3 linked regions of the Homo sapiens genome follow. The protein of the gene in region 3 interacts with the protein of the main gene of each other region in a pairwise test. Each region holds a gene or a part of one and is shown on either strand. Other genes may lie near its edges.

What was found.
Region 1: the proteins of CCDC136 (region 3) and ZNF230 interact in binary tests that used the Homo sapiens proteins (3 or more experiments, as listed by UniProt).
Region 2: the proteins of CCDC136 (region 3) and ZNF490 interact in binary tests that used the Homo sapiens proteins (3 or more experiments, as listed by UniProt).

What each region holds. Positions count from the first base shown.
Region 1 is NC_000019.10:44,005,836-44,009,586, reverse strand, and holds part of ZNF230 (zinc finger protein 230), read right to left. Parts: intron 2,577-3,751; 5' UTR 2,509-2,576; coding exon 2,494-2,508; intron 798-2,493; coding exon 671-797; intron 504-670; coding exon 417-503; intron 1-416. UniProt on the Homo sapiens protein: May be involved in transcriptional regulation.
Region 2 is NC_000019.10:12,576,136-12,579,886, forward strand, and holds part of ZNF490 (zinc finger protein 490), read right to left. Parts: 3' UTR 1-3,751. UniProt on the Homo sapiens protein: May be involved in transcriptional regulation.
Region 3 is NC_000007.14:128,794,838-128,798,588, reverse strand, and holds part of CCDC136 (coiled-coil domain-containing protein 136), read right to left. Parts: intron 1-3,751. UniProt on the Homo sapiens protein: May play a role in acrosome formation in spermatogenesis and in fertilization.

The sequences.
Region 1 (3,751 bases), on a different chromosome or scaffold from region 3:
CAGTGTCCATGACAGGACAGAGTAACAGCAGGGAGGACAACGTGGCTGGAAAAGATGATGCAAGGGCGAGAGGACAGATGTAGTCAAGAGGCAGCAGGGGATGAAGAACAAACCTCAGGGTCTCTAAAAGCCAATAAAGAGGTTGTAACTTTAATAACATTAATAAACCATAAAGGCTTTTGGACCAAGGAGTGGAAAACTGACTTGCATTTCCCAAGGATCATTTTGGCTGCTCGGGGGAAAATAGATGTCAGGGTGGAAGGGAGGGAACAGGACCACCAGCCAGAAAGGGGTTGTAATAAACCAGGAAAGAGATTGGGCAATTTAGATCAGGGTGATATAAGTGGGCATGGTCAGAAGTAAAACAAATGGGAAAGAAAGTCATGTACAAGGACACACAGTTGCTTGCTTCTTACCTGAATTTCCTTCTCTTTGGGTTGCTGTCTCCATCATCCAAAACTTTTCTTCCCTTAGGAAGTGGAAAGGGTGGAATGGTTGATGCCCTGTGAACATGCAAAGTCATGTGCTTAATACCAATTCATTCTAGGTAATATCAAGGTAAAATTTACTGGAAATTTAAGTTCCCACTGCATACACAAACTTGAATACTCTAGGATACAAAGCCACTCCTGAGGCCTGATGTACCATTACAGAGGGTGCCTGTGCTCACCCACTGACAGCAGGTTCGTGAAGTTCTCAAGCATCACGTCTTGGTACAGCTTCCTCTGGGCAGGGTCCAGTAGCCCCAGTTCCTCCTCAGTGAAGAACACAGCCACATCCTTGAAGGTCACTGCCTCCTATAACATCAAGGATACATAACCTCAATCCTATGACCATGGACTACTGGGGGAGGAGCAGCATTGAGCAGGCGGAGAGGAGAAGTGGAGGTCAACTTATAGATTTCCCACTCATTCTGTCTGTATCCTGACAGTGATTTTCCTGAGCTCCACCAGAAGTGCAATCATGAAAAAGACCTCCTGTATTTTTACTTTGTGCACTTACTGAGTCTCCTTGTAAGTAACCCCTTAGGATTTCAAATGGTGCATCCTGGGCTACACCTATATAGGTTTCAATGAATTTTGCCAATTGCCCCAGTTGCCCCAGCAACAATGAGCAATTCAGTCTCAACCTTGTTTGATGAGGCTTATTGTCCTCCTCTCTCAGACCCAAACCCTGGATGCTATCACTTTTCTTTAGTATTTGCCAAACTAACAGGTTTTAGGTAACTATTTTCAAAGTAGCCTTGGATCCATTCTCCCCACTTTCTTGTTTATAGGTCTCAAGAATAACCATAAATGTGCTAGTTATGCAGTGTCCTTCCCAGGGAAGATAACATCTTTTTATTTTTTTTTATGCCTTCTTTGGTTCTAGTCCAATCCATAAAAGATAATATCTTGAGTTAGAGAGGAACTGCTCAGTAAGTCATGTTACCCCTGAGGCATATAGCCTGGGACAGGCTGCCTCTTGGGGTGCCTCAGCTATGGTGCAAATGGGGCAAGTGCAGTCGTGACTCCACCCACTCTAGGCAGCTTTCTTAAGCCTTGGAGGACTGGCTCACAGTGGATCATAGGCTTCTGTTGTCCCTTGCTACCTACATGTAATAAATCTGCTTTATGTAATTTGTCATACATGAGTGTGCTCTCTCATGGTAGACTCGCCAAGTCTGTAACTAGTGAACCTGTTCCATGGAATTGGTGCAGCCAGCAGGGTCCAATTTGACAGAACTCTGGACTGGCAAAGGGGGAGCACTTATATCCTGGGCAATTGGCCCAGTGCTGTGATGGCAGCCTGGGGGCGCAGGCTGGACAGCAGCTTGATGATTTATAAAGAAGACAGAATGATAAGCGGGACACAGGCCACCCCTCCACAGATGTGAGCTGGCTGCATGGATTGAGACAGAAGGACAGAATACGGAAACACAGGAGCTTGGTGTGTGATCCGCTGATTGCGACACCTTAAATAATAGCTCATTCCTGGGGCCAGAGGACTCAGGAGGTGGGTGAAGTGGGTCAGAGGGTCCCTGGAGCATCTAAGAGAAATGGAGCCAACATGCGCAATGTGGGCCTCCACAGAAAGGGGGACTAACTATCTGATGGACAAGTATGAAGAAAACCAGAAGGACATGTTATCTTGGTGTATAGAGCACTCTTGACATAAGGAACTCCATCATCAATACAAATACAGTTATGAATGTACAAGGAACAGCACAAGAAGAAAAATCAGGCTAATTTGAGAGCAAGGAGGTGAAGAAGTGGGAGCACTGTTCATTCCTACTAATTTTTCTACTCCATAATGTAACAGTAAAAAACAAAACAAAACCCAAACCAAAAACCAAATGCAAAGTCAACACAAAAGAGACAAAGGAAGCAACTGGCACACAACAGGTCCCAAATGCCCATTTCCTCCTTGAGTCTTCCCAAGACAGAGAAAAATATATGACAATATGAGCAATAAGATGGAATTTTAATAGCAAGAGAGGTGAGCTCTACTCACCTTGAATGTGGTCATTTTTCCTACTACTTTTTGGAGTCTTCAGTGTCTTGAGTAATGGAGCACAAAGGAAGGTGGAATTGTGCCTGGAAAATGCCAGAGACAGCAAAAGAGAGACATGAAATGGTGGCTGGGGAGGCTGTGTAGCAACAAGCACATGTATTATGAATGATCACAGCAGCATTATTCATACTAACCCCAAAACTGTGCACAACCAAAATGCCTTCCTCTGGGTAAATGGATAGAAAAATCATGGCATATCCATATAATGGAATCTAATTTGGAAATTAAAAGGAATGAAGTACCAACCCATGCTACAACATGCACAAACCTTGGAAACATCATAAGAGAAAGAAGCCAGTCACCAAAATCCATGGATTAGATGATTCCATTTATATGAAATGTCCGAATAGGCAAATGTATACATAGAGGAAAAGTAGGTTAGTGGTTGCTCCAGATTTGGGGTGAGAATGAGGTTTAATTGTAAATGGGCACAGAGTCCAACTGAGGGTGAAAAATAACTAAACTGAATTATGATGATGGTTACTCCACTTTACAAAGTTCCTAAAGATCACTGTACTCCTGAAATGAGTGAATGCTTTATGTAAAATATACCTCAATAGAGTTGAAAAAAAATTGCTAATCCACATGTCATTTACCTTCATAAGACTGAATTCTGAGTCCATATTGTTGGGAGATTTATACTTGAACAAACAAATGAATAAATGAAGAGAACTAGAAGTTCATCTTTAGTAGAATGCCCACTAATAATGTACCTTCCAATAAGAAACTTGAGTTTTTTTAAAAAAGGTAACTTTACAGCGGACAAATCTGAAAGGCATCATCTTGGCCAAGTGAACACAGTTGAGATCACCAGTGAAGGGACAAACCACATCATGTGAACCCTGTTATGTTGCAATAAAGAGGAAACCTCATCACTTGTGCAATATCCTTACCAACAATACATAATCTGAAACTAAACATGAAATATATCAAACTCCAAATGAACATCTTTCTCCAAAATAACTTTCCTATTAAAAAAAAAACCACCATGTTTATAAAAGACAAAGACTGTGGAATCTTTCTAGACTAAAGAAACTGTGGAATGTGACAACTAAAGACAATGCATAAACTGGACTTTGAATGGCATTGCAGGTGAAGGGTGGGGTAGGGGACACAGTCATAAGGACTTTATTTTTTTATTTTTTGAGACAGAGTCTCGCTCTGTCACCCATGCTGGAGTGCAGTGGCGCGATCTCAG
Region 2 (3,751 bases), on a different chromosome or scaffold from region 3:
TCAGAAACAAGGATATTTGCTCTCACCAGCTCCATTCAGTGTTAAGGGGGGTGCTCCCAGGGAAATCAGGCAAGAAAATGCAAGCATTCCAGCCGGGCCTGGTGGCTCAAGCCTCTAATCCCAGCACTTTGAGAGGCCGAGGCAGGCAGATCACAAGGTCAGGAGGGCGAGACCATCCTGGCCAACATGGTGAAACCCCGTCTCTACTAAAAATAAAAAAACTAGCTCGGTATGGTGGCACGCGCCTGTAATCCCAGCTACTCAGGAGGCTGAAACAGGAGAATTGCTTGAACCTGGGAGGCAGAGATTGCAGTGAGCCGAGATCATGCCACTGCAGTCCAGCTTGGTGACAGAGCGAGACTGTGTCTCAAAAAAACAACAAACAAACAAAATAACCAGCCAGGCAGAGTGGCTCACGCCTGTAATCCCAGCACTTTGGGGAGACCGAGGTGGGTGGATCACAAGGTCAGGAGATTGAGACCATCCTGGTCAACATGGTGAAACCCCATCTCTACTAAAAATACAAAAAAATTTAGCTGGTTGTGGTGGCACGCGCCTATAGTCCCAGCTACTCAGGAGGCTGAGGCAGGAGAATTGCTTGAACCTGAGAAGTGGAGGTTGCAGTGAGCCAAGATTGTGCCACTGCACTCCAGCCTGGCAACAGTGAGAATCCATCTCAAAAAAAAAAAAAAAAAAAAAAACCTAAAAGCATTCCATATTTAAAAATATATATAAATATATATACACACAGCCCTCTAGACAAATATACAAAAATCACACACGTTATCACTGTACATACAGGTGGACAGACACAAATTCACAAACCCACAGGTGTAACAGCCCAGATACTAAAAGATTCTCCCAAATAGAAGGACCCCAGGTGTTCTGATCTCTTCTCCAGGTTTCTCTGGCTCCTCGGGAATAACCACCACAGTGCCTTATATATCCTTGCTTGCTTTCGTGTCTTCCAGAATGCCAGGATCAAGGGGACAGAGATATTAGCACAGCTTTGTTGACTACACCTATTAGAGGGAGTTACACAGAGGAAAATACTTACTGAATATTAGGACTCACACAGACACATACACAAAAGGGTTTTACAAAAACATCATCATAGACCCACATATACTTGTCCTTCAAAAAGTGAATGTTCTCACTCCCATTCCTGTAGCAGAGATACCCCTTAGTTCCCCAATACCTATCACAAAAGATGGCTCCTTGAGCCCATTCTGACAGTGAAGGAATCTCGAACTTCCTGACCTCCCACAGTACAATAATCATCTCTCTACAAAAGCACAACATGGCAGCTCAAGAATGTGAAAGGACCTGAAATGGGTTGAGTAATAATGTTCCAACCCCTCATACTACCATAAATGTTCCTGGTGAGAGAAGCGAATGTTCCTGGTGAGAGAAGCGAAGGTGTGCATCTCCTGGCTCAGCCACCAGGTCCTCCACTGCATCTCCACAGTAGCCGTCACTTCCACTGAGGCCTCATCTGCCAGCAAACCTTGCTCCAGTCGGCCTCTGGACCCTAGTATCTTCACCGTGGTTTTGGATGCTGCCACCTGACCCATCCCTGCTGTTGGGGGAGGGTGGAGGCCAGAGGCCTAAAGAGTTCCGACCCGAGCGACACAAAGATCACTTCTGGGACCCACCCAGGGAGACTGTTGTTACGAGGGTGGATGGTGACCTGGTTTCCCTCAATGCTGCCACCTCCCTTCTAAAACACACTGACTTGCTAAGAAAAGGGGGGACTGACTCCAACAAAGGACAGACCCGACCCCTATCGTGCCTATGCAATTCAGAAAACGGAGAATTCGGAGGCTCCAGCAAGCAGTTTATTGGGAGTTGAGTTCACCTTGCCTTGTGATGTGAAGCAAGGTAGTTCCATGGCTTGTGAACCCTGACACCAGCACCTCCCATACACAACAGAGCTGGAGCGCTGCAGGGTGGGTCCTTTTCCAAGAAGAGCTAAGTGCTAGTCTTAGCGGGAGGCTAGGAAACCAGTCCTGGAGCAGGATGCATGTGACATGCACTGACGTGAGAAGGCCGGAGCATCATCAGTGCATATGCCGCTGAATATCTCAGGGTAGAATGTGCCAGAAAACAGGGAAAGCAAGTTAGGGGAGGTAAGAATTCTGAGTGTCCTACAGCTAAGACATGGCAGAGTGTGTCTGTGACTCCACTAGCAGTTTTGAGATTATTCTGACTGTGGTGGTTGGTGCAGGGCTGGTAACCGCAGGAGAGTGGATGCTGTGTGGTCAAGGGGTGTGTGTCCCATGATACAGGCTCTGCTTCTTCAGTCTCTCACCTCAGAGCCACCTGCGGTTGCCACAGAGAAATTCAGATGTGAATGTTTAAACAAGTGTCCAAAGTGTAGGTTTGAGATGGGAAATGGAGCTGGAGATGACCTCAAAACAGCCCTGGAATAATGCAATGCTGACAATGTCTGTGAATTAGGATGTGCATAGGCAGATCCCACTTGGGGAAAAACTGTAAGATGCGAACCTTTGTCTTAGAAGTACAGCATTCCCACAGTCTGACCCGAGGACACTGATGGAAACTTAAAAGGCAGATTCTGGGAGTCTTCTCACTTCTCTCCAGTCATGTGTGAGAGCTGAGGGCAGGCACTGCCCTAGAGGGTGTTTCCTAACTTCTGACTGGATGCCACAAAAGGCCTGCTGGGGCCCAAGTCCTTCTTCCCCATTCCTTTAATTCTTCCTACGAAGAATCTCGACAATGGTTGCAGATGTCATTGAAGATGTTCCCATATTGCTTACATTTAAGAAGGTGGCTCTCCAGTGTGGGTGGTTTCATGGTTTTAAAATGAACTGGAGGCCGGGCGCGGTGGCTCACGCCTATAATCCCAGCACTTTGGGAGGCCGAGGAGGGCGGATCACGAGGTCAGGAGATCAAGACTATCCTGGCTAACACGGTGAAACCCCGTCTCCACTAAAAATACAAAAAATGAGCCGGGCGTGGTGGCGGGCGCCTGTAGTCCCAGCTACTCGGGAGGCTGAGGCAGGAGAATGGCGTGAACCCAGGAGGCGGAGCTTGCAGTGAGCTGAGATCGCGCCACTGCACTCCAGCCTGGGCAAGGACTCCGTCTCAAAAAAAAAAAAAAAGAACTGGGGGCCGGGTGTGGTGGCTCACGCCTGTAATCCCAGCACTTTGGGAGGCCAAGGCAGGTGGATTACCTGAGGTCAGGAGTTCAAGACCAGCCTGGCCAACATGGTGAAACCCCGTCTCTACTAAAAATATAAAAATTAGTTGGGCGTGGTGGCATGTGCCTGTAATGCCAGCTACTAGGGGGCCTGAGGCAGGATTGCTTTGACCTGGGAGGCAGAGGTTGCGCCACTTTCACTCCAGCCTAGGCAACAGAGTAAGACTCCAGCTCAAAAAAAAAAAAAAAAAAAAGTAAAACGAACAATTTGGGAGGCCAAGGTGGGTGGATCATTTGAGGTCAAGAGTTTAAGATCAGCCTGGTCAACATGGTGAAACACTGTCTCTACTAAAAATATAAAAATTAGCTGGGCATGGTGGTGGGCACTTGTAATCCCAGCTACTTGGAAGGCTGAGGCAGAAGAATTGCTTGAACCCAGAGGTTACAGTGAGCCAGGATCACACCACTGCACTCCAGCCTGGGGCAACAGAGTGAGACACCATCTTGGGGTGCGGCGGGGAAAAAAAGGTTGGGTGCTGTGGCTCACACCTGTAATCCCAGCACTTTGGGAGGCCGAGGCAGGCAGAT
Region 3 (3,751 bases):
TCTTAGGTGCTTCTGGCCCTAAAAAAATGGTATTGTCGGCCAAACACGGTGGCTCACACCTTTAATCCCAGCACTTTGGGAGGCTGAGGCTGGTGGATCACTTGAGATCAGGGGTTGGAGACCAGCCTGGCCAAAATGGCGAAACCCCATCTCTACTAAATATACAAAAATTAGCCGGGTGTGGTGGCTGGCATTTGTAGTCCCAGCTACTCGCGAAGCTGAGGCAGAAGAATTGCTTCAACCCAGGAGGAGGAGGTTGCAGTGGGCCAAGATCTCGCCACTGCACTCCAGCCTGGGTGACAGAGCAAGACTTCGTCTCAAAACAAACAAAAAACTCTACTGAGGAGAGAATCGCTCTGGAACCCTATTTTCGGCCGGGCGCGGTGGCTCACGCCTTTAATCCCAGCACTTTGGGAGGCAGAGGCGGGCGGATCATGAGGTCAGGAGATCGAGACCATCCTGGCTAACACAGTGAAACCCCGCCTCTACTAAAAATACAAAAAATTAGCCGGGTGTGGTGGCGGGCGCCTGTAGTCTCAGCTACTCGGGAGGCTGAGGCAGGAGAATGGCGTGAACCCGGGAGGCGGAGCTTGCAGTGAGCCGAGATCACGCCACTGCACTCCAGCCTGGGCGACACAGCGAGACTCCGTCTCAAAAAAAAAAAAAATAGAACCCTATTTTCCCAGGTAGTTCCTGCCTGCATCTCTGCTTCAATTCTGACTTTTCGCCCGTTTGAATGGAGGAACGTTCCTTCTCCAGGCAAAGGCCTTTTTTTGTACTGGATCTTTTCTTTCATTATACATGATCTAGCATTTCCTACCTTTGAAAAAAGAAAAGAAATAATCTTTTGACCCTATTTCCCTTACTTCTCTGCTTCTCTTCAAAATGACTACTGGAGTTATCGGTACTCACCTTCATCTCCCATTTCCTCTCCAAACCCAATCCAATCGGTGCCTCCATGCACTGAGATGTCTCAGGGTCCTCTCTCTTGCCAAATCCAAGACCATCTCACTTGACTTAGCAACCTGACACAGTGGATCACTGTCTCCTTGAAGCACTTTCTGCTCTGGCTTACAGGGCATGACATGCTCCAGGAGTTCCTCTCACTTTACTCTTTTGTTCATTTCTCCTTCTATACTGGACCTCTAAATACTGGAGTGTCTCTGGGACTGGACCCTTTCTCCTCTTCTGGTGTCTCTCCATGTGACTGCACCATTATTTCCCATGGATTCTAATGCCAATTATATGCTAATGACTCCAAATTTACATCTCCGGCCCTGTTTTCTCCCTGGTTCTGCCTTTATATATCCAACTGCCTCAATATATTCACTTGGATGTCCACAGTTACTTCAAACTCAACAGAGGAAAACATGTTTTAAATGGCTCCCCTAGCCCCAAAACTTACCCCTTGCCAAGTCTTTCCCAATTCAATAAACATCACCACCTTCCATCAATTTTCTCAAGGCAAAGTCATCTTTCATGTCTCTGTTATCCCCTGATCGAATTCATTAGCAAATCCCGAGGGCTTCACCTTCAAAATATATTCTGGGCCGGGCGCGGTGGCTCACGCCTGTAATCCCAGCACTTTGGGAGGCCGAGGCGGGCGGATCACGAGGTCAGGAGATCGAGACCATCCCGGCTAAAACGGTGAAACCCCGTCTCTACTAAAAATACAAAAAATTAGCCGGGCGTAGTGGCGGGCGCCTGTAGTCCCAGCTACTTGGGAGGCTGAGGCAGGAGAATGGCGTGAACCCGGGAGGCGGAGCTTGCAGTGAGCCGAGATCCCGCCACTGCACTCCAGCCTGGGCGACAGAGCGAGACTCCGTCTCAAAAAAAAAAAAAAAAAGAATATATATATATATATATTCTGAATCATCTCCATTTCTACAGCCCTAACTCAAGCGACCATCATCTCTTGACTGGACTATTGCAGTAACTTGCTGACAGGACTCACTGTTCTGAGTCACTTCCCTCCATCTTAAGTGTTTCCACTTAGTGGCCAAGTTCTCTTTTAAAAATGTAAAGCAGATCGTATCATCCCATTCCTGGCTAAGACCCTCTCCTGGCTTTCTACCACACTTAACATGAAAGCCAAACCTCTTGGCTGGCCTACAAGATCCACTGTAATCTGGCCTCTGCCTGCCTCAGAACGTTCTCTTGCCAGGGTCCTCCACGTGCACTTTGCTGCAAACACAGTGGCCTCTGTTCTGTCGCTCAAACAAATGAAGCTCATTCTCACCTCTGGGCCTTTGCAGTTGCTGTTGCTTCTGCCTGGTATGCTCCTCCCTCAGATCTTGGATGGCTGGATCCTTTTCATTATTCAGGTCTTAGCTCAAATGTCATCTTCTCAAAGATGACTTTCCTAACTGCCATATCTAAAATAAACTCCCTTCAAGACCAGCCTGGCCAACATGGTGAAACTCCATCTCTACTAAAAATACAATAATTAGCCAGGTGTGGTGGCGCATGCCTGTAATCTCAGCTACTCGGGAGGCTGAGGCACTAGAATCGCTTGAACCTGGGAGGCAGAGGTTGAAGTGAGCTGAGATTGTGCCATTGCACTCCAGCCTGGGCAACAGAGTAAGACTCTGTCTCAAAATAAAATAAAATAAACTCCCATCCCACCTCCTCTCTGTATCATATTATTATATCGTGTTCATAGCATTTATTGCCATCTGAACTTGTGTTGTTTATTTTCTGCCTCTCTCCGTTAGAATGTACTCTTCATTAGGGCAGAGATGTGGTCTGTCTCATTCACAGCTGGTCCTCCAAGTATAAAGGCACCTCATAAATAGGTGATAAATAAATTAGTCCCATTTTACAGATAAGAAATGACATCTCAGAAAGATAAGTGACTTGCCCAAGATCACACAATTTCTAAGTGGTATAGCTGGGCCCAGGAATCTAGGTCATCCCAGATCAATGCCCACACTCTTCCCTATGTGACACGTGTCCTGCCACTTTCCTCCTCTGCAAGCCCCTTCACTGACCACCCTTCCTGTATCTACCTTTGCTTACATTTTCTGTCCCCGTCTCCTCTCCTCCCCACTTACACCTCTGCTTGCTCCTGTCCAGGCCTGCTTCCTGGCCTTCCTTTTTTTTCTCCATTTATACTTTTCTTTTGGCTTGATCTCAGTTCTCCCCAGAGTCCCTGCCGTTTTCTAGGGCAGCTCCCCTAAACCTTCCGGAGGCCCACAGAAGTAACAAAAGCTGCCTCTTTATTTGGTGGTGTGGTGGAATGTGGGGCATCTGCCTTGCTGCTTCCCAGAGACAAAGGGACGTGGGTGTTGGCAAAAAGGGATTTGGGGCCCACAAGCTCAGGTCCCAGGCAGCAACAGAAGTGCTGTCATCTGTCTCTCTTAATAGGTGCAGAGAGGCCCCACCAGTCACTTCTCATTGGCTTCATGCTTTCCCATGCCATCCTTGGAGGAACCAGAAAAAGGAATCCGGCTTGGAATTCAACTTGGATCACCCACCCCTGGCACTGACCAGGAGAACAAAGGGACAGGGATGCAGTATGAAGGAGGAGGCTGAAGGGGCAAGAGGAAAGAGCCCACCAGGGACAGGAGGTGACAGGGAGGCCAAGAAATGGAAGGGGAGGACAGAAGAGCCAGGTAGATGTGCAAAGAAAGAAAACTGGGGACAGAGGAGGATGGAGAGACAAGGAGAGGAAAAGGGTGAGACTAGTAGAGGAAAATGAGGTGAAATTACTGAATTTGGTTATTTTTATCTGCTGTGCTTCAGTCAAACC